3 separate regions of the Homo sapiens genome follow, and all the other regions are linked to region 1. The links come from fine-mapping of genetic effects on gene expression. A gene starts in region 1. Each other region holds a variant in brackets. All regions are shown on one strand. Distances are between the middles of the regions. Region 1 holds the start of FAM20C (FAM20C golgi associated secretory pathway kinase). Region 2 overlaps LOC105375114 (a long non-coding RNA gene). Region 3 overlaps LOC105375113 (a long non-coding RNA gene).

The links.
Region 2: its variant is fine-mapped to the expression of FAM20C in whole blood (GTEx, PIP 0.95).
Region 3: its variant is fine-mapped to the expression of FAM20C in blood mononuclear cells (TOPMed, PIP 0.97). The same link has a PIP of 0.9 or more in monocytes.

The regions. Positions count from the first base shown.
Region 1 is chr7:188,597-196,772 of GRCh38, forward strand. It overlaps FAM20C (FAM20C golgi associated secretory pathway kinase), which reads left to right and starts at 3,975. Exons shown (of 10, transcript NM_020223.4): 1 at 3,975-5,208; 2 at 6,958-7,136. The coding sequence starts at 4,604. It overlaps LOC124901808 (a long non-coding RNA gene), which reads right to left and starts at 1,522. Exons shown (of 2, transcript XR_007060632.1): 1 at 1-1,522. RefSeq lists enhancers at 1-327, 6,752-7,729.
Region 2 is chr7:107,153-115,328 of GRCh38, forward strand. It overlaps LOC105375114 (a long non-coding RNA gene), which reads right to left. Exons shown (of 3, transcript XR_926959.3): 3 at 5,504-8,176. Among named protein-coding and RNA genes, the nearest start is that of LINC03015, 38 kb to the right of the region's middle. RefSeq lists an enhancer at 1,522-2,238. The variant C/T (reference allele first, on the strand shown) is at 3,782.
Region 3 is chr7:78,799-86,974 of GRCh38, forward strand. All of the region lies in intron 1 of LOC105375113 (a long non-coding RNA gene), which reads right to left. It overlaps LOC101929756 (a long non-coding RNA gene), which reads left to right. Exons shown (of 3, transcript NR_187733.1): 2 at 1,332-2,496; 3 at 4,117-4,551. Among named protein-coding and RNA genes, the nearest start is that of FAM157D, 47 kb to the left of the region's middle. RefSeq lists enhancers at 2,732-3,504, 3,505-4,275, 5,569-6,292, 6,293-7,016, 7,741-8,176. The variant A/G (reference allele first, on the strand shown) is at 3,389.

The DNA.
Region 1 (8,176 bases):
GCCCGTCTGCCCCCCTCATTCCTGGGGAGCCCGTCTGCCCCCCTCATTCCTGGGGAGCCTGTCTGCCCCCCCCATTCCTGGGGGACCCATCTGTCCCCCCTCATTCCTGGGGATCCCATCTGTCCCCCTCATTCCTGGGGAGCCCGTCTGCCCCCCTCATTCCTGGGGAGCCCGTCTGCCCCCCTCATTCCTGGGGGGCCCGTCTGTCCCAGGGCTTTGCATACTGAGGCCTCGCAATCCACAAGCTTTCCTAATTCCCAGCTCATCCACATGACAACAGCCCTTCCCCGGGGGCTCTGGCCGACCTCCCTTCGTCCTCACCACACAGCTGCTCTCCCTGCCCCGCCCTTAGCCCTCCTTAGACCCATCCACCCGGCCCCTAGGTGAGCCTCTCCCGACCCAAGACCCAGCGTCGTCCCTCTGTCCCCAGCCTTCCCACGGCCCCCTCACTCAGGACGCAGCCCACAGCCTGGCCCCACCTGCAGACCTTACAGAGGCCACTTGGCCCCTCACACAATGCCCACCTCACAGGCCTTCTCTCCCCGCAGAGGGTCAGACATGCCCCTGCCCCAGCCTTGGCATTTCCACCCCGCAGGCCTCCACGGGGCTGAGCCCTCAGGTACCAGCTTCTGTGCAAAGCCATGCCTGGAGGCCTTCCTGGGCCACGTGGTCTAAGACAGCAATCCCCTCACACCCAGAGCAGGCAGCCCTCCCTGCCCGGGCCGTCTTATTTTCCTATGTCATTCCTGTCACCACCTGGCGCTCACCTTGGCTAACTGGAGCTCCAGCCCCTTTGGACGAAAAGAGCTCCCAGAGCCACTCCCTGGTCTCTGATGGGGCTGTGTGTCCTCTCCAGGTGCCCTCCCCGACAGCCAGCCCCTCCGCCTCTGCACAAGGGAGGGCCCAGGGAGGCTCAGGGCCTGTGTGGCTGTGTGTGTGTCTCTATGTGTCTGTGTGTCTGTGTGTTTCTGTGTATCTATGTGTGTATGTGAATGTGTATCTGTCCATGTATCTGTGTATATCTGTGTCTGTGTGTGTGTGTATGTCTGTGTCTGTGTGTATATCTGCGTCTGTATGTATATATGCGTGTCTGTGTGTATACGTGTCTGTGTACCTGTGTCTTCGTATGTCTATGTGTGTATTGGTGTGTGTCTGTGTGTGTCCATGTGTGATGACATGTGTATCTGTGTCTATGTGTGCATCTATGTATATCTGTGTGTATGTCTTTGTGTATCTATAGATCTGTGTCTATGTGTATATTATCTCTGTGTTCATCTGAGTATTGTATGTCCATGTGTGTCTACATGTGCCTGTGTCTGTATCTGTGTCTGTCTATGTGTCTATGTGTGTATCTGTGTGTCCGTGTGTGTGTGTCCATATATCTGTCTATGCATGTATCATCTGTGTGTCTGTGTATTGTGTATCCATGCATATATCCGTAACTATGGGTATGTCTGTGTGTGTTTGTGTCCACGTGTGTGTATCTGTGTGTGTCTATATATCTGTGTCTATGTGTGTGTCTGTGTCCACGTGTGTGTATCTGTGTGTGTCTATATATCCGTGTCTGTGTGTATCTGTGTGTATCTATGTGTGCATCTGTGTGTGTCTGTTTTCTCTTTGTTTTTATGGTGTCCACGGATGGGCCGACTGAACCACCAAATTCCTCCTCAGAGCCCAGTAAAGGCACCAGGCGGAAGGGTCTGGCGGAGGGTTGGCCGCTGTCTCCTCACTCCTCAGCGGGGTCCTGTCTTCCGACTTTTGTCTCGCGCCGCCGCAGCCTGTGGACTCCTGGGCCCTCCTCTGAGAGCCTGCGCTGTGCCTGGCCCCGGGCGGAACTTTGAACGAGGCTCCTGTCTTAACTCGACTGCTTGTGCTTGGGGGAGATAAACAATAAACAGGAGCAGAAGAAAGTGTCCTCAGACCACGGCGGGTGCTGTTGGGAAAACAGTGGCGGGGCAGGGAGGGGGGCGCTTCTGAAGGACCTGGCGAGGTAGAGGCCACTGTTCTAAGAGGCAACAGACGAGATGAACCAGGACCCTCTGCGAGGGAGGGAGGCGTCCAGGGGTGCACACGGGTCCAGATAGCTGCCGGGCTCCCAAAAACCACTCTGGGGGTGAGGATGGGAGGGGAGAGGAGTTGGGGGCAGGAGGCAAGTGAAAGTAAGTGCCCAGGGAACCTCCATGAGGCCCCCCACACCGGATAATAGTGTTCCATGGGGTCTGCTCAGCCCCATGTCTGCCCCAAGACACTAGCCACAGCTCTGCGTCGAGGTCCTGTAGACCACGGGAGAGATGGGGGGGCCAGGAGCCTATAGAACTCCAAGTCCAAGGGGACCCTTGCTGGGAGAACACAGGCCAAGACCTTCCTTCCTGCCACAGGCTTCTGTCCCTGCTGTCTGCTCCCCCAGGACTCCCCCCACACCCGGGATCTTCCTCCTCACCCTCCTTGGCCTCTCTCAGTGACCCTGTCTACACACAGATGTGCTGTCCATGTGAGTGGAAGGAAGGAAGGATGAGGTCCACTCACAGGGGTGAAGCTGTCTCCTGAGGGGGCAGCCCACCTCCAGGTCACACCGCCCCACCCAACACAGCCTCCAGTCCAGCTCCAGGTGGGCCGCACCCAGCCCTTCACTCACTTCAAATGGCCCAAGACGCATGGATTCCACTGGCCAGCCGGACTGGAACAACTTCTCCCCTTATAAGTATCTAGTGGGTGCCCACGGAATGCCAGGCAATGGGCCAGGCTCAGAGATGAGTGATTCCTCAGGAACAATGGGCTCAACGCCCTTAATTCACATCAGAGGAAACTGAGGCTCAGAGAGGGCGGAGAGGGCCCTGGTAACACAGCCAGCCGGTGAAAGTAAGAGGGGGGGCCCAGGCCCTGCTCCCGGCCCACCCGCCTGGGCTTGCTGGCGAGGCTGCTGGCCCAGGCAGTCTGGGCACTGTGGAAGCAGCCGGCTTGAGGCACAGGGGATGTGGCCTCCTCCCACACACTTACCTCCCTGACTACATCTTAGGCTGACATCCAGATTAACTCATATTCCCTACAGGGAGCTGCACGGCCAGAAGCTGCTGGTTGCAGAAGCCACCAGCTGGTTGTACAAGCACCGCTCCCCTGGTTGTGGGTGACAGATGAGATGCACTCACGTGAACACACATGCATGTGCACACACACATGCACACAGACGCACACACAAACACACACAGGCATACACACGCACACGCACATCCACACACACACATGCGCACACACACGCACACGCCTGCACTCACACACCCCCGTCGGCCCCAAGCAGGAAGGCGCCCCCGGCACACCAGCCCCTCTCAGCGCCCCCAGCGGGCCCGGCGCCTGGAGGGTTAAGGCGGGCGCGTCCCGCGGGTGGGCGGGGGGGGGGGGACGGGACCGGTGCCGGGAGCTCCGCTGCCCTGGCGTCCCCTGGGTCCAGGCCCAGTCGCTCCTTGGGCCTCTCTCGCGGGGCCGCCTCCGCCTCCTCCTTGCCGAGACGGGCGTGGGGCACGGGGTCGCCGCCCGGCGGGGAGCTCATCCGGCGGCGCAGACGCCCCGCGGCTCCGGGGAGGGACTTGGCCTGGGCCCCGGCCCCGCGCTCCTCTGGGGAGGAGCCGAGAGGCTGCAGCTGGCGGCGGCGGCCCCGGGCGGGAGGGGGTCCCAGGAAGCGGCCAGGCCGGAGCCCCCCACTCGGCCGCAGCTGCTGGCCTGGCCAGAACCGAGCGCGCCCTCCCGGTCTCCGCCGCTTCCCTCTGCAAACCGCGGGCAGGAGGAGCCCTCTCCTTAGCGGGCCCGGAGCTCAGAGGCGTCGCGGGGCGCGGCCGAGGGGAGGAGGAAGGAGAGCGGGAGCGCAGCCGGCCCGGGCCCAGCCGTGACTCGTGGGGCGGCGGCTCCGCCAATCTGTGGGCGCTGACGCGGGGGGCGGCTCCGCGGCGCTCGATATCTGCCCGCCCGGGACGCGGGGCGCCGAGAGGCTCGGCCAGGCGGGAGCTGCGCTCGGGGCGGCCGCTGCACCTGCCCGGGACCCCGCCGGCCGCTCCCCGCGCCCACCCCTTCCGCCCTTCGCCCCCCCCTTCCCCCCAGCCCCGGTCTCCCGGGCGCGGCGTGAGAGCAGAGCCCGGCCCGGAGGAGCCGCCCCTTCCCCGCCCGCCCGCCCGGCGCCTGGAGAGGAGCGCGCTGAGGATCGGGACGCCTGCGGCCGCCGCCACCGCCCAGGCCCGTCGCGCCCCGGCCGGGATGGACCCACACGCCCGATGAGCCCCGCGCCGGCGGCTGCGAGCGCCGAGCCTCCCCCTGCTGCGGCCCCAGCCGCCCCCCGCGCGCCCGGCTCCGCGGACCAGGACCCCTGGGCTCCCCGGCTGAGGGCGCGGCCGCTCCGGAGAGGCCGAGCGGGGACGGGCCCGAGATGGCGCGGGGACCCAGCGCTCCGGCGGCGGGCGCCCTGCACGCGGCCCGGGCCCGGGGACAGCCCCGGAGCTGGTAGCCGCCCGGCACCGATGGACCTTGACCCGCGAGGCGGCGCCGCGCTCGTGCCCAGCTGCAGCTAGAGGGGCGCGCGGGCAGAACGCGCTCCAGGCCCGGGCCGGCCCGCGCGGCCATGAAGATGATGCTGGTGCGCCGGTTCCGCGTGCTCATCCTGATGGTGTTCCTGGTGGCCTGCGCGCTGCACATCGCCCTGGACCTGCTGCCCAGGCTGGAGCGACGCGGCGCGCGGCCCTCGGGGGAGCCCGGCTGTTCGTGCGCGCAGCCCGCCGCCGAGGTGGCCGCGCCCGGCTGGGCCCAGGTTCGGGGCCGCCCCGGGGAGCCCCCGGCCGCCTCCTCCGCCGCCGGCGACGCGGGCTGGCCCAACAAGCACACGCTCCGCATCCTGCAGGACTTCAGCTCCGACCCCTCCTCCAACCTCTCGTCCCACTCGCTGGAGAAACTGCCGCCCGCGGCCGAGCCGGCCGAGCGCGCCTTGCGGGGGCGGGATCCCGGCGCCCTAAGACCCCACGACCCCGCGCACCGGCCGCTGCTGCGAGACCCCGGCCCGCGTCGGTCCGAGTCGCCCCCCGGCCCCGGCGGAGACGCCTCCCTCCTGGCCAGGCTGTTCGAGCACCCGCTTTACCGGGTGGCGGTTCCGCCGCTCACGGAGGAGGACGTCCTGTTCAATGTGAACAGCGACACCAGGCTCAGCCCCAAAGCGGCGGAGAACCCGGACTGGTGAGTGGGGGCTGGCAGGTGCCCACCCCCAAGGGAGCCGTGAGCCCAAGGCATGGTGTAGAGAGGTTCAGGGGCCCCAGAGGGCCGCCCCCCATGGAAGAGGCCGGGCAGGGAGTGTGGTGCGGGAGGAGGCAGCCGCCTACCTCAGGGCGCTGCCTTTGTCTCCAGAATAACCTCCTCCTTGGGAGGGGCTGCCGGCTGGTCCGGGAGCTGTGCCCTGTGGCTGCTGGTGAGGAAGCCAGACCCCGCGCCCTTTAGAAGCGAGTCCTGACCAGCCGTGGTCACCAGCTTGGGAAATGGGGTCAGGCAATGAATGAATGAGTTGGTGAGGGAAGGAGCCAGGCTGCCGCTGGGCTTTCAGACACTTGGCGAGGGTGCTCTGGGTGGGCACCTTGGAGAAGGTCTGGATGTGCCTATTGAGTCTTTTAAACCCAGTGGCTGGAGCAGAATTATCAGAGGGGCTTGCTGGCAGCCGTGAGGTGCAACAAGGCGGCCCAGCCAGCAAGGGCGGTGGGTGTGCTGGCTGCAAAGAGATGATGGCTCGATAAAGGGCGAGAAGCCACGGCAGGAACCTCTCTTTAAACTGTCCTGGCTAAGCCCTTTCCCCACCCCCCGGCCCCTCCCTCCGCCACACAGATCAAAACAAGCAGATGCTACACCGAAGCAGTGGAACATTAACCACGACAAGGCCAGAATAAGTAACTACCTGCCGAAGGTTACCCCAGCAGCAGAGGGGGAGACCAGCCTTCCAAAAGATCTGGTTGAAAGTCCCTTCTTCCCTGAAATGTCCAGGCCCAGTGTCTTCTGTCTAAACACACTGGCTGTTTGGAAGCCTCTGAGCCTTGCCTGCTGGTCAGGTTCAAGGAAATGCTTGGAAATTTGAGAACCAGAGCATTGGCCTGGGCTGTGGCTCTCGGCAGGGAGAGACGGCCGCCCAGAGCAGCGAGTGGCCAGGAAGTGTATCCTAGCCCCCCACCCCGCCCCCGTGTCCACCGCAGGACAGAGCTTCGGCAGAAAGCACCTCAGCTTTAGGTGAATTCGAGCTAGGACAAGTTCCGCGTTTCCCTCCAGCCCAGCAGGCAGACGGAGGGTCTGTCCCTCCTCCAGAACGGTCCCTTGACCCCAGAGATGTGAGGACAGGCTGCGTGGGCGGCGGGTCCTCCATGGGAGCCTGGGCTGGAGAGAGTGCTGCCTCCTTCCTCTCTCCCCACCCAAGGCTGCTCTCATTAAAATCAAATTTAGCCTCTTGCATCATTGTGCCCCTGGTTGTTGGAACAAAAGCAGAGAGCTGGGGAAGGTTCCTGACAGACTGGGCGTGTCTGTGAGTTTCATGCAGCCTGTGGTCAATGGTAGGTTCTCCCCTCTACTCCAGGGGAGGGCCACAGCCCCTCGCACCCTCAGCTGAGGTCATGGTTGGGCCATTTCGGTGACCCTGGGACAGACGTGGCGGGGATGGCAGGGCAGCGCTGACGTCCTGGAATTAGTTTTGCTGTAGTTAGAGCTGTCTGTGGTGTCTCCAGAGGGTGAGTAAGAATTACAGGCCTTTCACCGTGTTATTAGTTGGCAGCCGAGCGGCCACAGAAGAAAGCGCAGACGTTGCAGGGCCCTCTTTAAGCAGAGGCGCCTTCAACACATCTGCACTTGCTTGAACCCAAAGTTAAAAACACTGGCGTCGGTGCCCTCTCCCCGTCATCCGACTCACGGGCCTGTTCTTTCCATGCTGATGTTCGTCCTCGCTGCTCCCTGCAGGCCGCATGCGGGTGCTGAAGGTGCAGAATTCCTCTCCCCCGGGGAGGCGGCCGTGGACTCCTATCCCAACTGGCTCAAGTTCCACATTGGTATCAACCGGTACGAGCTGTACTCCAGACACAACCCGGCCATCGAGGCCCTGCTGCACGACCTCAGCTCCCAGAGGATCACCAGCGTGGGTAGGTGTCCTTGGGTGCACTCAGGGCCGTCTGTGTGCCGGCTGTGTGGCATCAGGGCTGCTGGGGCAGGCTATGTGTTAGAGAGGTCTGGGAGGCCGTTGCTCATTACGGCAGCGTCACCTCCTGCAGCAATCTGCACGGGCAGCGAGGAGGGACAGAGGGCTCGCGTCTCGTGTGCTCTCACACTGGATGTGCTCCTGATCTGCCGCACGATGAGCGGGGAGACGCCTGGACAGCCGGTCCACTGCGCTCTGCGTCCTCACCTGGGTGGTCCCGGGGGTGCCAACTGGATGACAGAGTCCTTCCCTCCTGGGGTAGAGGAATAGAGGGGTATCTCTGGCGGCGGTGACCCCTCCACCGGAAGCGTGTGCATGGAACTCTCCTGCTTTTCTACACACGACCCTGGCTGGGTGGGGAGACAGCCATGAGCCTGCTTCTTGTGGTTTTGAAGCCGTCCTTCGTCAGACCTCAGCAAGGCGCTGTGCAGTTTCATACTGAGGAGACATAGGCAGGGCTCAGGACGGAGGCCTGGGCCTCCCAGATGGAGGAGTTTGAAGGCAACATCTCCAGGTACTTTGGGATCTGCTGAATTGGACAAAAAAGGGCATCCAGTTGCTGATTTCAGGAAAATATGCCACTGCAGCTTCTGAGCGTGGAGGTTTGGTGCCATTGTTCTCAGCTTGTAGGCGATTGTTTGTGAAGGTCCCATTTGTCACCAGTGCTTGGAGAGGTAGTGAGGGCGGGGCTGAGGCCCTTTAGTGGGAGCAGCTGCTCCCCGGGGATTGCAGGGAGTGGGCCTGGGTGCACACAGCTGTGGGCAGGTGCAGAGGCCATGACAGCCTGAAGGCAGGGCTTTCTTTGCGCTGTGTGATGAGGCCAGCAGTCCCAGGCATTAGCTTCATGTGTGTCTCAGAAGCAACCTTGGTGCTGAAAGGGTCCCAGCAGCCTGGGGTTCTGTCCAGTTGCTGACACAGGACTTAGGTGTCCCCTTTCAGGCCAGCAGGTAGGTTCTCCTGAGCTCTTCGGGGCTGTTTCTGGCT
Region 2 (8,176 bases), 81 kb before region 1:
TACAGTGGAGAAAACTGGAAACCTCTGCCTCAGCCACATCGCCGAGGTTGACATCACCGGTGACAAGTCACGCAGACAGCAAGGACGTTGGTGTGATGCTGTGGGAAGGTCACTTTCCATCCTCCCCACAACCCGTGACCCCAAACTAATCACAGGAAAAAGATCAGACAAGTCCCAAATGAGGGACATTCCACAAAATACCCAACCAGTCCTCCTCAAAACTGTCAGGATCACTAAAAATAAGGAAAGTCTGAGAATCTGTCACAGCTGCGAGGGCCCTAAGGAGACATGAGGGCCAACTGTAACATCATACTTTGGATTCTGAGGTAGAAAATGGATATTAAGGGAAAACTGAGGGAATGTGAATAAAGTATGGACTTTAGTTCCTACTACTGTATCGACATGGGCTAATTCACTGTGACAAAGGTACAGTATAATGTGACAGGGTAAGAGTAGGGGAACCTGGGTGTGGAGTATACAGGAACTCTGTGCTATCATCACAATTTTTCTTTATATCTAACAATGTTCTAAAATGAAGTTTATTTTAAAAATAAAAAATAAAGACAGGGGTCCTTGATATCAATAAACCCCATGAAAATACATTCATTAATAATCAGGGAAGCACCTCCCCCAGCACATGTGCATATGACACCCATGCACACACTCAAGCACACGTGCACATGACACCCAGGCACACACTCAACCCAAGCACATGTGCACATGCACACCTGTGCACACACACTCAACCCAAGCATGCATGCATGTGTGCATCTGTGCCCACAGTCAACCCAAACACGTGTGCACCTTACACCCATGACACACCCAACCTGAGCACATGCACACATGCTCAACACAAGCACGTGCACACATGCATACCCATGCACACACAATGCAAGCACATGCACTTCTGTGCACACACATGATGCAAACACATATGCATTGCATGCCCATGCCCATGCAGTCAACCCAAACACGTGTGCACATGCACATACTCAACCTGAGCACATGCACCCATGTACACATGTGCACACACACTCAACCCAAGCACACATGCACATGATACCCATGCACACACACTATGCAAGCACTTCTGCACATATGTGCATGTACACATGCACTCCATCCAAGCACATGTGCACATAGACACCCATGCATGCTCAACTAGAGCACATAAGCAGATACATACATGTGCACACACACACAACCCAGGTATGCATGCACATGCACGTCCATCTGCACACTCAACCCAAGCATGTGCACACACACACACTTGTACACACACACTCAACCCAAGCACATGTGCAGTTGCACGAATGTGCATACACAACCCAAGCACACACTCAACCCAAGCACAGCTCACCAGGGACAGAGGCCCAGGAACAGACTCTGACAAAACAATGAAGAGAATCCAAAAAGCAATTACACTGCCAAGTATTACGCAAACACAATTATTGGAATTGCTAGTCAAAAACGGTTAATAGAATAATTAAGATAGATTGACCTAAAAGCTGATTTTAAATTAACCTGACATGTGCATATACTATCTAAATAATACTCTTTCCTCTGATTTAGTCTCTCATTAAAATCAGATTTCATTGGGAGAAATTATACATTTGCACCATCATTGGGAAGAAGAAGCCATGTTCACTCACCCACTGATGAAAATAGGAGATTATTAGAGGAAGTAAAATGGGAATATATTTTCCTGGCCTTCCCTGGCACAGTGTGATCTGTCCCTGTAATAAACCACCGCTTCCTCCTAGCCTGCCACTCGGGAGGTGAGGGAAGCCAGTTAAGATGGCCTCAACTAAGGACCCCAAACCACTAGTGTCTGTGTGTGTCTGTGAAGCTCGCTCACGGGGGAAGGGCCCGTGGGGTGGGCAAGAGCAAGGAAGAGAAATGAGCACTTGGAGACGCCAGGCAACCAGGAAGACCCAGAGGAAACTCGGTACGTCTGCATTGAACACGTCTTCATGGGTGAGAAAACTGCAGCCAAGGAAGGAGAGGGATTGTTTCCAGGCAAACAGCAAGCGCTGGCAGAGAGGCAGGGACAGAGGCTGTTTTCGGCATCCAGCATCTCTGTTCAGCTCATGATTCCCTGCCACACCCCAGATAAAATGAACCCCTGTGGGGGTTTGTCTGTGCACGCGTCCAGGGCCTATCCTGGTCTGTGTGAACAGACTGGCCCTGCATCCCAGCACAGAAGCCTGGGCTGAGCACCAAAGGCCCCCAACTGCGGGAGGCAGGTCCTGGTCACTGCTCCCTCCACGGCCATGGCTCCAGTGTGCAGATCTCAGCTAGTGTCTAAAACACGAAGGCACTGGGTCACTACAGCTATGGGCCTCCTTGTTCATTGAAACCCTTGGAGTTACCTCGTTAACACTTTTTAAATGGATAGCCACTTCACATTTTTTAAGATAAAGAATTTCCCCATTAAAATTATTGAGATTCAGTAATAACACATTATTAGGATAAGCAGGACATGTAAGATGCTACAAAATGATCTATTACTTGGAGGATTTTAAAACCCTAATGAGAAAAACGCTCACTACCATTTATTCGTTCTCTTAGCCTTCAGCACCATTAGTCTGAGGAGCAGCATAGGGCTGGGGCTGGCTGCATCCACACTCACCCCTCTGATTGCTCCAGAACCTTTTCTTCAAAGAGAAATCTCTGCACTCTGCAGGGACGGTAAGTGGCGACCCTTAGGTAGCTGAAAGCACGGGGAAAAGAGCAGGAAGAGGTGGGAACATGGAGATGGAGAACACAGGGAGCGGCACGCTCAACGCAGGTGGAGTCTGTGTCCCCTCCAGCGATAGCCAGAACCAGGACCACCAGGGATCCGACATCACTGGCCCCATCCCGTAGGGTGGGCTGTGGGCAGGGAACAGCTGAATCGCCAGGCCACTCTCAGACCCTTGGCAGACACAAGGAATAACAGCTGTGGCCGCCGCTGTGGCCGCAGTCCCAAAGTTTGGAGAGAAATAGCAGCAAGTAGCAGCACCACTGTCCGTCAGCTTGAGTGCTTCTCGGACAAAGGAAGACAGTTCTCCTGTTTCCCAAAGACTTGCAAAGGCTGTGTGTTCCTCAGGCAGCTACTGCGCCATCGGCCTCTGAGTGATAAGGAAAGGAACCAGGGCTCAAACCTACTCCTGAGTGAGTCAAAGCAACTCCGCACTCCCTGCCAGCACTGAGGGTGACCCCCGAGCCCTGCTCAGGAGCTGTGGGGCCCGAGATCTCCCCTCCGCCCCGTGGGCAGGGGAAGGGCAGCAAAGGCTCTCTGCCACGCCTGTGTTCGGGCTCCAGAACTCTTGGCCTGGTGTCTGGAAGATGGGATTGCTGCCTTGGACAAGCCTCTCCTCCTTGCTTTTCCCTTTTTCTCACAGTGGGGTTTAAGCTAAGGTCCTATTCCTAGATCACTAATAATGATAGCAGGTGCCATTTATGAACACCTACTGTATCCCAGTGCTGCTCTCAGTGCTGTACCTGTATTCTCTCATCTCATTCTCTCAAGGGCCCAGTAAGGTAGCCACTTCATTAGCCATCTTTTACTAAAGAGCAGACTAGGCACAGAGACGGTAGGTCACTTTCTGAAGGTCACACAGCGAATGCAGGTGAGAACCAGGCTGTCCACGAAGGAAGTCTGACCCCTGATTGGGCTGTAATCACTGTGCTGTGCAGACACCCTCTCCATCAAGACCCTTCTGTGTTGCACCCCCCACCCCCACCCCCTTCTCTGCTTGGAAATGAAGTAGCTTTCAGGGGACTCTTATGAGGCTCC[C/T]GCCTCCCCAGGCTGGCCCCACACAGCCCCAAGACAGGAGCCCCCAGTGGCGCCTTGGTGGGCTTCTTGAGGGTTGCCTTAATCTTCCCCAGCCACCCACGGGAGACACCTGAGGTTTGTGGCTTGTGCCACGCGGCTCCAGGGCCTCCAGCACCCACCTGCAGACACGGCTTCAGCCGGCCCATGCTCCTTCTGTTTCTTTCGCTAGCTTGTTTAGGTTTCATTCACAAACAGTAAAGCCCATTCATGTGACAGTTGTATACAGTCATGTAACATCTACCACAGTCAAGATGTGGAACATTTCATTCTCCTAAAAAGTGTTCTCCTGCCCCTTTAGATTCCCTCCTCCAGCTCCCAGCCCCAGGCAGACAGTGATCTGATTCCTGTCCCTGTAACTTTGCCTTTCCTGGAAGCTCATAGACATGGAACAGTACTCTATCTCTTCCACTTAACTTGATGATTTCAAGACTTATCCATGTCGTGTAGGCTTAATATTTTGTTCATTTTTTATTAATGGGTAGTATCTCATAATATGCATGCACCGTAGGTTACCAACTTGCCTGTTGATGGGCATTTGGGCTGTTTGCAGTTTGGATGTATTACAAATAACATTGGTGTGAGCACTTGTGTCCACGTCTTTGTGTGGACATATGTTTTCATTTTCCTGGGGTAAATATTTAGGATTGGAATTGCTGGGTCATGTGGTAAGTGAATGTTTTACCTCTTAGATAGTGTCAGTCCATTTTCCAAAGTATTTCCATTTAAAATTCCAACCAAATTTCATGCATTCCAATTTAAATTGTATGTAAATTCCCATTGTTCTATATCCTTGTCAACACTTAGTATTGTCAATCTTTTTAACTTTAGACTGCTTTTAATGTGTACTCCTCTGATGGCAAGTGACGTTGATCATTTTTTCATGTGCCTATGGGTCATATATCTTTTTTGTCATGTATTTGTCCAAGTCCTTTTCAATTTTTAACTGCAGTTTTCAAATTATTGATTTATAAGATATCTTCATATATTCTGAGTACAAGCCCATTGTCAGATGTGGATTTTGTAAAATTATTCTGCCAGTTTGTAGTCTGCTTTTGCATTCCCTTAACTCTGTTTAATTTTGAGCAACCTTTTCAATTTTGCTGAATTTGTTTTATCATTTTTTATCATCTGTGCTTTCACATCTTGTTTCTAAAAAATGTTTATTCTAGCCCAAGTCATAAAAATTCTTCTGTATGTTTTCTTCTAGAACTTTAAAAGTTCTAATAATTTTCAGTCCATGATCCATCTCAAGATAATTTTGCATGTGGTGGGAGGTAAGGCTTGAAGGTTATTTTGTTTTTCCATGTAGATATCAACTTATCCTGGCACCATTTATTGAAACAGCTAGTTCTGAAAGAATTAAATTTTTACCTTTACCAGCAATCAAGGGACTATATAAATGTGGGTCTTTCTGACTTCCCCTTCGGCTCAGTTGGCCTCTGTGTCTTTCCTGATGCCAAAACCACACTGTCGTGATTACCATACCTGTATAGTAATTTTTGAAATCAAGTAGCGTGGGCCCCACAACCTTGTTCTTATTTTTCAAAGTTGTTTCTGGATATTTTAACCCTTTTGTCTTTCCATGTAAATCTTAGCATCAGCTGTCTCATTTCTTCAAAAGGACCATAAGTGGCACGGTAGTATATTGATGAGCAAAGACATACAATCGATTTTTCTATGAAAGTTAAATGCTGCAACTTGGCTAAACTAATTTTATTTGTACTAATAGTTTGGTTTTTATGGTGGTAAAATTCACATATTATAAAATTCACTATTTTCACAATTTTGAAGTGCACAATTCAGTGGCATCCAGTGCGTTCACCACGTTGTCGGCCCCAGGACATTCGCATCACCAAGAAAGGAGACACCACATCAATCGAGGTGTCACTCTCTGTTCCTCCCTTCCCCCAGCTCCTGTCACCACTAACCTGCGTTCTGCCTCTTTAGATCTGCCCATTTCGTATAACTGGAATCATATAACATGCGGCCCTTTGTGTCCGTCTTCTTTCACTCATCATGTTTTCAGTTTCAAGGTTCATCCATATTGTGGCATGTTAGGGCTTCATTCCTGTTTGTGGTTGATGAGTAGACCACGCTTTCTCAGTGCCTATGCTAGTTGTTTGTAAGTTTCTTAAGATACTTCCTCATACATGATTCATGATATCTGCATAAAGAGGCAGTTCTTCTTCTCCCTTTCCAGTGTTTATGCTTTAACTTTAATGTCATTTAAAGCTACCTGTGTCTCTGTTCTTCAAGTGCAATTTTGGAAGACAGCATGTGTGTGGGTCTTGTTTTCATATCTATTCTGACAACCTCTGCGTTTTACCTGAAATCTTTGGTCCACTCATATTTAAATAAGTATTGACATGGTTATGTCTGGGTCTGTAATTTTATGCCTCGCTCTCTATACATACCCTCCAGTTCCCCCCTTTGTTTCTCATTTCTTAACTTTTTTTAGGGTTACGTGAATATTTACTGATTGATTTTTCTCCTCATTATATTTTGTGAATATACGTGAATATTTATTGATTGATCTTTCTCCTTATTAAGCTTTTTCAGCATGGTATCACCTCAGTAGTAGAGCATAATCAGTCCTAGACTAATTTAGGCCCCACCCAAAAAAGCTTAAAATCAAGCCTCAAATATATCAAATTGTTTCCAAGTAAAGTAACTTCATCCCTGAAAAGTTTTAAAATAATTTTAGGAGTGCAAAACTATCCAGGATCTAACAAGGAAAAGTACATGATGTCTAGCATACAGTAAAAAATCACCAAGTATGCAAAGAGGCAGGAAAACACATCATGTAATGAGGAATATCAACAAATTGAAACTAATTCACAAATGGCACAGATGAGGGCATTCCTAGACACAGATGAACTGTAGTTATTATCACTCTATTCCACATGATAACGTTAAGCAGAGATATGAAAAACATTAAAAAGTCCCAATTCTAACTTTTAGAGATGAAACCATTTCTGAGATAAAGAAAATTCACTGGATGAGATGATGAGATTAGACAGACACTACAAAAGGAAAGATTAATGAACTTAAAGGTATATAATAGAAACCATCCAAAGTGAAACACAGACAGAAAATAGACCCCTTCAAAAGGAGCAGAAAGCTAATTGGGGGGCAACTTCAATTGGCCTAAAATTCATACATTTAGAGTCCCAGAAAGAAAACAAAGAAAAAAAAACAGAAAAAAAAGGAGGACATAATGACTGAAATCTTTTGAAATTTGCTTTTTAAAAGCTACATATCCCAGTCCAAAAAGTATGAAGTACGAAGAAGGCACATCTTAACCAAACTGCTTAAACTGGGTAAGAACGAGACAATCTTAACAGCAGGCAGAAGAAAAGAGACGTGCTGGGTACAGAGGAACAAAGACAAGGATGACGACAGGTTTCTCCTTGAAAATGAGGCGAGCTAGAGGACAGTGGAACAAGCTCTGCAAAGTACTGCCGGGAAAAGCCTGTTGATTTGTGATTCTGTACCTGGCAACAAAGGTAGAAACAGGGTGAGATATCAAGTTTTTCAGACATATAAAAGCTAAAATATTAATCATACCAGCAGATAAGCACTAAGAGATATTAAAGAAAGTCCTTTGGACAAGAGGAAAATGACATTATAGGAGACCCGATAGAAGCACAGGAAGGAAAAGCATGTTTTGCTGGGTATAGAACATGTAGAGAAATAAAATATGTGCCCACAAGGACATGAAGGAGGGCAGGGAATGGAAGTGTGCTGCTGTAAGGTTATTAAACCATCATGATGTAGTGTAATATTATTTGAAGATAGATTATGATAAGTTGAAGGTGCACACTATAAACCCTAAAATGTATACACACACACGCACACATACATATGTACAGACAGAGTTATGGGGAATAAGCCAACAGAAGTGATTAAATGGGATGATTAAAAAATACCCAGTCCAGAAGAAGGCTGGCTAAGAGGAACAGGAAACAAAAAGTAGACAGGATAAATAAAATGCAAATAGCAAGATGGTGGTTTAAGTCCAACCATTATCAACAGTGATGGTAGATGAAAATGATCTATAACCATTGGTCTAATTCAGTGGCAGTTTGTCAGACTTAATAACAAAGCAAGACCCAACTAATTGCTGCCTACCCAAAACCCACTTTAAATATAAATTCACAAATACATGAAAACTAATGGGATTTTAAAAGATACACTGTACTAACACTAGTCAAAAAAAAAAAAAGCGGGAACAGCTATATTAATATTGAACAATGAACACAACCAGCATTATAAAGAAGGTCATTTTGTACCAGCCTTTAGCTGGGCTTCTTTTATCTGCTTTGAGTGTGTGCAGTTCAGGGCCAGTCGGAAACA
Region 3 (8,176 bases), 110 kb before region 1:
GATCTCAAGGCCCTCTCTTCTCGTCCCACCGCCCCTCCCTCCTGTGACAGGAGGACCAGCAGTTCCACTCTGAGCCCGGCTGAGGCCCGACCTCCTCCACCTCAGCCCTGAGAATCTTCTCCAGCTGGGATGGCTGTTGCCCTGTTGTCCTGTTGCCCTGTTGCCCTGTTGTTCTGTTGTCCTCTTGTCCTGTTGTCCTGTTGTCTTGCCCTCCCAGCTCCTGACCACACAGGGGCTTTGTTCCCGCGCCAGCCTCTTTGGGGAAAGTGGGGGAGGGGGGCCCTGCTCCAGGCTCTGGGACATTTGGCTTGGGCTGTAGCCTGTGTCCAAGGAGAAGAAACCCTGAAGGTGGGTTCCCACCAGATGTGGGCATGGTCAGCTACATCAGGCCCCCAAAGGTGTGCACATCCTAATCCCACGAACCCGTGGGCACGTTACCTTACATGCAAGAGGGGCTCTATGGATGGAGTCGGGATAAGTGTCTAGAGATTGGGAGGTTGTTCTGGGTCATCCAGATGACTTATGAGAGGGCCCTTATGAGAGGGAGACAGCAAGCTCACAGAGAGGGCCATGGAACAACAGCAGCTCAGACACAGCAGAGGCCGCACAGCTGTCCTGGGTGCCGAGTAGCTGCAGAGGTCGGAGGAGGTGCAGAGCAGGTGTTCTGCAGCCTCCAGAGGGACCAGCCCTGCTGACTCCCTGGCTTTGGCTCAGTGAAACTCATTTCGGACTTCTGAGCTCCAGCTCTGCAAGAGAAGAAATCTGTGCTATTTTAAACCACTAAATTTGTGGTTTCTGTTTCAGCAGCAGTGGGAGAGGGCGAAATGCTCTCCAGCTTGGCACCCGCAGCCCAGCTCAAAGGCAGGGACTGTGGTTGCTTTGCAAATGAGGGAGGCTGGGTCCCTGCCCTCACCGGGCTTACCATCTAGGTTTGGAGAGGAGTGACGTAAGGTGAAGTCAGAAAAGAATCATAAGAAAAGAGAGTCCACACCCTGGAAGGATCTGAGGCAGAAGGAAGCTCTTGCTGAACCACCTGAGAGGAGGCGGTCTGGCCTGAGCACCCTGGGGGGCCTGCGCCCCCACTTCGAGGCCCCTCTGGAAGGTGCTTGGCTCTCCGGATGACCCCAGCACTGGGGAGACCCGCTGTGCTTTCCAGGCAGCACAGACACCTCGGTGTAGGTGTTGTGGTGCCACAGGGAAGGGTGTTTCTTCCAGCCTGGTTCTCAGGACGGGCTGCTGGCTGGAACAAACCCCACCTCTATCTGAGCCACCAACCATCTGAACCGGTATTCTCTCTATCTGACAAATATTCCTCCTTCTTTACATCCCAGAAATGGTGAAAATGCACAATGCCTCAGGACGCCTTGAGGAAGGAGCAGCGTGTTGCTGCTGAGGGTGAACACACGTGGTCTCTGAGGAGAGGCGACAGATCTCCCTGGGCGTCAGTCATCCTGGGACTGGGTGTCGTGGAAGAAGGTGACACCAGGCAGAAACCAAGAGCAGGGGAGCTGCAGGCCGGTATCAGAGCCCGTATCAGAGCAGAGTGGCCCCTGAGCGGGGAGGCAGCTGGAGCTCACTGTTGGAGGAGGGCCCGGCACCTGCACCTGAGGACATGAGTCTGAGGCCTGCGGAGAAGCCAGGTGAGACACCGCTGTGCTTCTCTGGGCCACGGCCCCTCACGGCTGCATCCAGTCACCAGAGTTCCTCTGTGCCTCACCCACCCTTGATCATAGAAGACAGCCTGCATGTCCTCAGCTCTGTCCTCCAACCGGCTGCCCGGGAGGCCTCCCTGGCTGCTCCCCAAACTGCACGTGCCCTGAGTCAGCCCTGGGGCCTCATGGACTCCCCTGTTCACGCATCCCGGCAGCGCGCAAACCATCCCTGTCGGCTCCCAGTGAAATGCTACAGGATCTCAGGGCAGCTGCACCCCGCAGGTTCAGAAGGGATGGGATTCTGTGTCCTTTTCCTTCTTGCTTCAGACCTTCACCTGGGGCTCTAACACCGAAAGTCTGTGCCAGACAGAGGCATCCACAGCGACAGGAGCCTGGGCCAGGGCGGCCATCCCTGCTGCAGAGACAAATGTCAGTGTCCATGGAATCAGTTCGGTGCGGTGAGCGGCAGGTCTGATATGAAAGCTACTCGCACTTCCCGTCTGGGCAAGAGCAGGAACTCGGCAGGCAGAGAGCTGGTGGAGCTTTCCATGGGAAAACCAGAACCTTCAAAGAGCCCGGCCTCCCTCTGATCAGCCCCTTCTTTCTGATCAGATGCATTATTGACGAGGCAGCCTCCTCCACCTGCCTCTCATCAGAGCAGCTCGTTTCCCACCGTGGTAATTTATACTTGTGATTTTGGCCTTGATCAATAAAGGCAACGGAGAAGACGCACCCGTTCATTTCCTACAGGAGGGGCGGAAACACACAGGCCTCTGTGCAGAGCTTTCCTGGGCTCTTCTGAAGGCAAGCAAACCCATCAAAGGGAAGATCTGCACGCTGAAAGGTCAGCAGTTCCCTTTTCCCCATGGGATTTGTGTTAGCAACTTTGCGAGTGGAAGATGCATTTGGAACTGCCAGTCCCTTACAGCCCTCACATGGGAGGTGCAATGTTCATCCTGTCACTATTTTAAAACTCGTCTCAGGGTTGGGAGTAACTGAAACCGTTTTGGGCTTAATTTTGCATGAGGACGTAGCAGAGCATGACAGAAGGGAAAAAGAGAAAATGCTGGCAAAGGAGAAATGGCCCTAAGAGGGAAGCCGGATCCCTAGCTGGGTCGGAGTAGATGAGCGGGGAATGAGGGGCTGGAGGATGCAGCTCCGAGCGTGCAGGGGTGGTGTGCTCTCGGGAGGGAGCTGCTGTGGAGCTACTAAGGAGGGAGGCTGAGGGGTGGGAGAAAGCCCAGGGCTGTAATCGTAGCCCCTGGAGCCTGATTTAAAAGACTGGAGGAGGCAAAACCTTTCCTGGGTGACATCCATCCAGGGCATGACCCTGCGGCCTCCGTGTCTGCTGTGGGCGAGGCTGTCCCTGCAGCCAGCCCTGCCCCCATCCCTTCCCTTCTAGGGATGTTGGAGTGTGGGGCAGCCCAGCTTCTGCCCACAGCACAGATGAGGAACTGAGGATGCAGGGGCCCGTGGGGGACGGCACACGGTCAGCCCAGAATTAGGACCTAAGGTTGGCCCTATGGGTTCCTGCAGCACAGACGTGCAGCATGTGCACCCACATGTACACACAATCAGGCATAGCCACAGAGAATCACACCCTCCCACGCACACCCACACCCACACACCCTCCCACAGGCACACGCGCACCCTCACACTCATGGTCTCGCCCTCCCACAGGCACACCTACACTCACCCACGCCTACAGGCACACAAGCACACACTCCTTTCCCCCC[A/G]CAATCCCTGCACACCCGTGGGCACCTATGCTCTCGTGTGGTCTGGATCTGCCCTCTGTGTGCACAGCCTGTGCCTGGCCCAGCGTGAGTGACTCGTGGATGCTCTGCAGGTGAGACCTGAGGTGAGTGTCCTGGCACCGCCCGGGCCTGGCTATCGGGAAGCTCCGCCCAGACGGCCGCCTCCTCCCTGGCGCGGGCCTCTTCCCTAGGAGGAGCTCGTTAGCTTGTTTTTCCATCGGTATTCTTTGTCCCCAGTCACCCGGACCTGGGGCTGGGCACTGCCAGGGGCAAATGTGCCATGTGGAGAGGCCAAGCGGGGGACAGGGGCGGCTTGTCCGCCAGGTGGCACCGAGGCGGCTGCGTGTGGGGCAGTGTTCCCACTCTCGTCACCAGCCCGCACTTCCCGCTGCCTCTGAGTATTCTGTGGGGGCTGCCCCGGCTGCAGCCCCAGGTGTAGCCTGCTGGAAATCTCACGGTGTCCAGGCCCCATCCCTAACCGGCCCGGGGCATCCCTGATTTCGTGCTCACCGAGAGGGGCCTCCCTCGGCCTGCCCAGCTAAGAGCCTTGCAGGAGCCCTTCTCCAGCCTCACACTGCCAGCCCCTTTGAATTGCAGCACTCAGGTCCCCAGGAAAGGTGTTTTTATCCAGTTAGCTGTTTTTTATACTTATGAAAAAGCTCCGTCGCTTGGAGCAAAGCAGAGTTGATTTTCAGATGTGATTTCTGCAGGCAGAGCAATGTCTGGTTCCTGCTGTTTCTTCTGATGGGCGCGGCGGTGACTGAGGGTGTCCTGCGAGCCGTCGGTGAGCGCTCAGCTGTCCTGGTCTGCAAGTTCCTACTGACATCACAACCTGCTGCTTCTCTCTGTCCTTAAGGGTCAGAAGATGGAGAAAAGGTTCATGTTTCCACCCCTGTATTCTGTTAGGTTCGGGTTTTTGAGAGAGGCTTGTGGGGAAGGGGCCGTGTCCCCACTCCTTCCTTTCTTCTTGTACACATATTTACATCCACTGATTGAGTGATTTACAATCACTCAACATGATTGACGGAACTTCTGGCACTGCGGAAGCTGTGCTAAGGCCTGGGCATTCATGGGACATGGAGCGTGCAAGAGCTGAAGTTTTAATGACTTGCTTGCAGAAAAAGATCAAGTTTTACAACAGAAAATTATGGGGCATAATTTCTATTGTGGCAAGGGACCAGGGCCGTCTCCTGGAGGAAATCTGGAGAGAACATGCCACAGCCAGGCCGGCGTAGAGAGAGGCTCTGGCAGGGGCCCCTCCCAACCCACCCCTGCATGCGTGGGGCTTCTGCTCAGCAACAGGGGCGCAGCTCCACTTTCAAAGTGTGAGGGGCAGGGGCTCAGGTCTCGGATGCCTTCACCACCTGCCTGAGTCGGGCATCGGGCAGGGAGCGTGCGGGGGCCTCTGCCTCTGCTGGCCCAGATGATTCCCTGGCCCTCCTCAAGTGCAGCTCCCATTAAATAGATAGAGCCGGGCTCTGAGCCACGAATTGGGCCAAGCATCCCAAGGGGGTGGAACCGAGTCAGGAGTCAAGACCAGAGGCCAGGAACTGCCCACGCCCATGTTCCTTCCACAGGGCCAGCCTGTCCGGTGGCAACACTAATACCATCCCATGAAGCCTGTGAAAATTAAAGGGAATGGTGCATGTTTAGAGGCCACACACAGCAAGTAACCAATGAACACCCACCCTTCATGCTTGGTTTTCATCACTGGGCCAGCAGGGGCGGAGGCCCCAGCACTCTCCCTGCCTGATGCCCGACTCAGGCAGGTGGGCTTGAGAGCCCCTCCCGGGGCTCCAGGGCTCTGAAGGCATCCAACACCTGGGCCCCTGCCCCTCACATTTTGGAAGTGGAGCTGTGCCCGTGCTGCTGAGCGAAAGCCCCATCCAGCTCTCCGAGAACCAGACGAGGGGCAAGGGAGATGAAGTCTTCCTGGAAACTTGGACTCCAGCTGGTGTGGGGGTCAGAGCAGCAGGCTGAGCCTTCAGGGGGCCTCCGGCAGGCTCCCAAGGCTGCGCTGTGCGTCTCTTCCACCACACGCACTGGGGCATGAGGCCAAGGGCATCGTCTGCAGAGCGAGAGGGAAACTGGGGTGGCAGGGCTTGCGGGCGCAGGACAGCGCCAAGGGGCTTTCGTCTCCCAGCATTAGGACGACCTTGTCCTCTGCCCCTGTCTGGGGGCCGCTGGGTCCCTCCTCACAGGAGCGAGGCAGGCAGCTCTGGTGCAGGGCCGGCCAACAGGCCTCAGATCTGGAGTCACAGACCCAAGGACGAGGACAAGGGCCCCACACACCTCCAAGCAGGCCCTGAGGTACTGACGGGCAGGCAGGACCCTCTGTGACCCTTCCTCACTCCTCACCCAGAGAAGCCAGGAGAGCGGGATGCCGAGGGACTGGAACAGAGAAGGCCTCTTGCAGGGGCTCATGGACAGGAAAACAGAGGAGCCTGCCAGGGCCATGGCCACTGGCAGGACAAGTGCCCACTGGAGCCAAGGCCTGGGCAGGGGAGAGGTCTGCAGAGCAGAGCCCGGCCCTGGGTTCCCACAGAGGCGGCTCGCACAGTGGCTGATTTGCCACTCGTTCACTCAGTTTAGTGAGCAGCACGTGAAATGCTAAATCCGTGTGGGCTCAGGAGCAGCCTCAGATGAGGAGAATCCCACAGTTCGTCGGTGAAGCCCCCACCCCAAATCTCCCACAGTCCTGCTCATGCCCAGGGCGGCAGGTGTCCTTTCTAATGGGTGAGAGCCAGGAGCTGGGGGCTGCGTGCGCTGTGGCCCCTCACCCATGGGGGCCTTCCAGGACCCCAGCAGATGCCTGAAACCGGGGAGTGCCCGACCCTGGAGAGTGTCTTTTCCTATACACACATATCCACCTGTGTGGGTGCGTAGCTGAGTGTGTATGTACACCTGTGTGTGAAAATATCTGTGTTTGCATTGGTGTGTGTGTCCATGAGTTTCTGTGTCTGTGTGGGTGTGTGTGCCCATGAGTGTGAGTGTGTGAATGTGTGTGGGTGTGTAGGTGAGTGTGGATGTGTGTGTGCGAGTGTGAATGTGTGCCCCGTGGGTGTATAGGAGAGTGTGTCTGTGTGCGTGTGCAAATATGTCTGTGTTTGTACTGATGTAAGTGTCCATGAGTGTGTGAGTGCTTCTGTGTAGGTGTGTGGTGTGAATGCATGTCTGTGTGTGCCTGTGTGTGTGTGTGTCCATGAGTGTGTGAATGTGTACCTGTGTCAGTGTGTGAGTGTGTCAATATGGGTGGGTGTGTCCTCCGTGAGTGTGTGCGTGAGTGAATGGTGTCTGTGTGCAGGTCCTCACCATGGGCCGTGTCTCGAGCACATGTGCCCCTGCCTCGGTGGACCGCACGGCCGGCTGGGAGACACAGCCCAGGTGCAGGGCACTCCACCTTTCAGGGCAGGCCTTGCTCGCAGCAGGTTTTCTCCCAAATCTTTGTCTCTCATCTTATCTGGGCGGAAGGTTTTACCAATGAGAAGCAGAAAGGCATTCTTTTCCTCCTTGCTGCCTGCTGACAAGAGGCAGCCAGCCGACCACTTGAAAGGGAGCCGGTACAGTTAGGCTGGGAGGGAAACTTGGATCACAGCCTGGAGATGGTGCGGTGTCCAGCCACTCTGCCGGGAGCTGGGCACTGTGTCTGACACACCGTTGCTGCTGGCCACTTCTAGTATTATTATTTCTGCTCTTTCCTTTCCTTCATCATATGCTCCTGGAAGGGGCTCAGAGGTGTCCCCACCTTGCCTGTCCTGGAAAGTTGTCTCAGAAGGCCCTGTCCCGGTGGAAAGTGCTGGTGGCTCTGGGTGTCTGGGCCTGAATGGTGGGGTGTGGTCCGCTTGGCTCTGAGCAGAGCGCCTCCATGACAACGCCACAGTGTGCAGGGAAATGGGGGTGGGTGTGGGGGAAGCTGGGGGGTACCCCCACTCCTACTACCTTGAGCTCAGACCACCCTCTGCAACTTCCCTGGGGACCCCCACGGCCACGGGCCCTGGTCCAGTGGTGGGCTCTGCTCAGCCCAAGGGCTTTTGGATTAGAGTGTTACCAGCTTCCTGAGCCCATCCCCACCGCCTGACCTCGGCCTTGGCCTCCTGAACTCATTCTCAGCCTCCTGAGCTCGTCCTCAGCCCCCTGAGCCCATCCTCATCCTCCTGAGCTCCTCCCCAGCCTCCTGAGCTCCTCCTCAGCCCCCTGAGCCTGTCCCCGGCTTCCTGAGCTCCTCCCCAGCATCCAGAGCCTGTCCCCAGGCCCTGAGCCCATCCTCAATCTCCTGAGCTCTTCTTCAGCCTCCTGAGCGGGTCCTCAGCCTCCTGAGCGAGTCCTCAGCCTCCCAAGCCTGTCCTCGGCCTTCTGAGCTCCTCCCTGCCCTCCTGACCTTGTTCCTGGCCTCCTAAGTTCATCTTAGCTCAAGGAGAAGGTCTTGGCTCCTCCTGCCTCCAGCAGCCCCTGGACTAGATGCCTAGTTTATCAGCAACCCAGATCTGAGCCTCCTATCTCAGACCCTGGACCATGGAGCTGTGGGCACCAGGGAAAGCTCTGGGGCCTGCTTGGCTTAGATAGGACCATCGGCCCCAGTGCTGAGCCTGGCTTAGGGCCACCCAGGGACGTGTGCTCTTCATCACTTCCTTCAAGCCAGTATCGCAGTGTCAGGAAGACCCGCTCTGTCCTGGTCACAGCGGTTCCCTCCTGCAGGACCCTCAGAGCCACAGGGCAGCAGAGAGACCTGAGCAGATGGTCCTGGTTCCACGGGGCTCCCCTATGTCACCC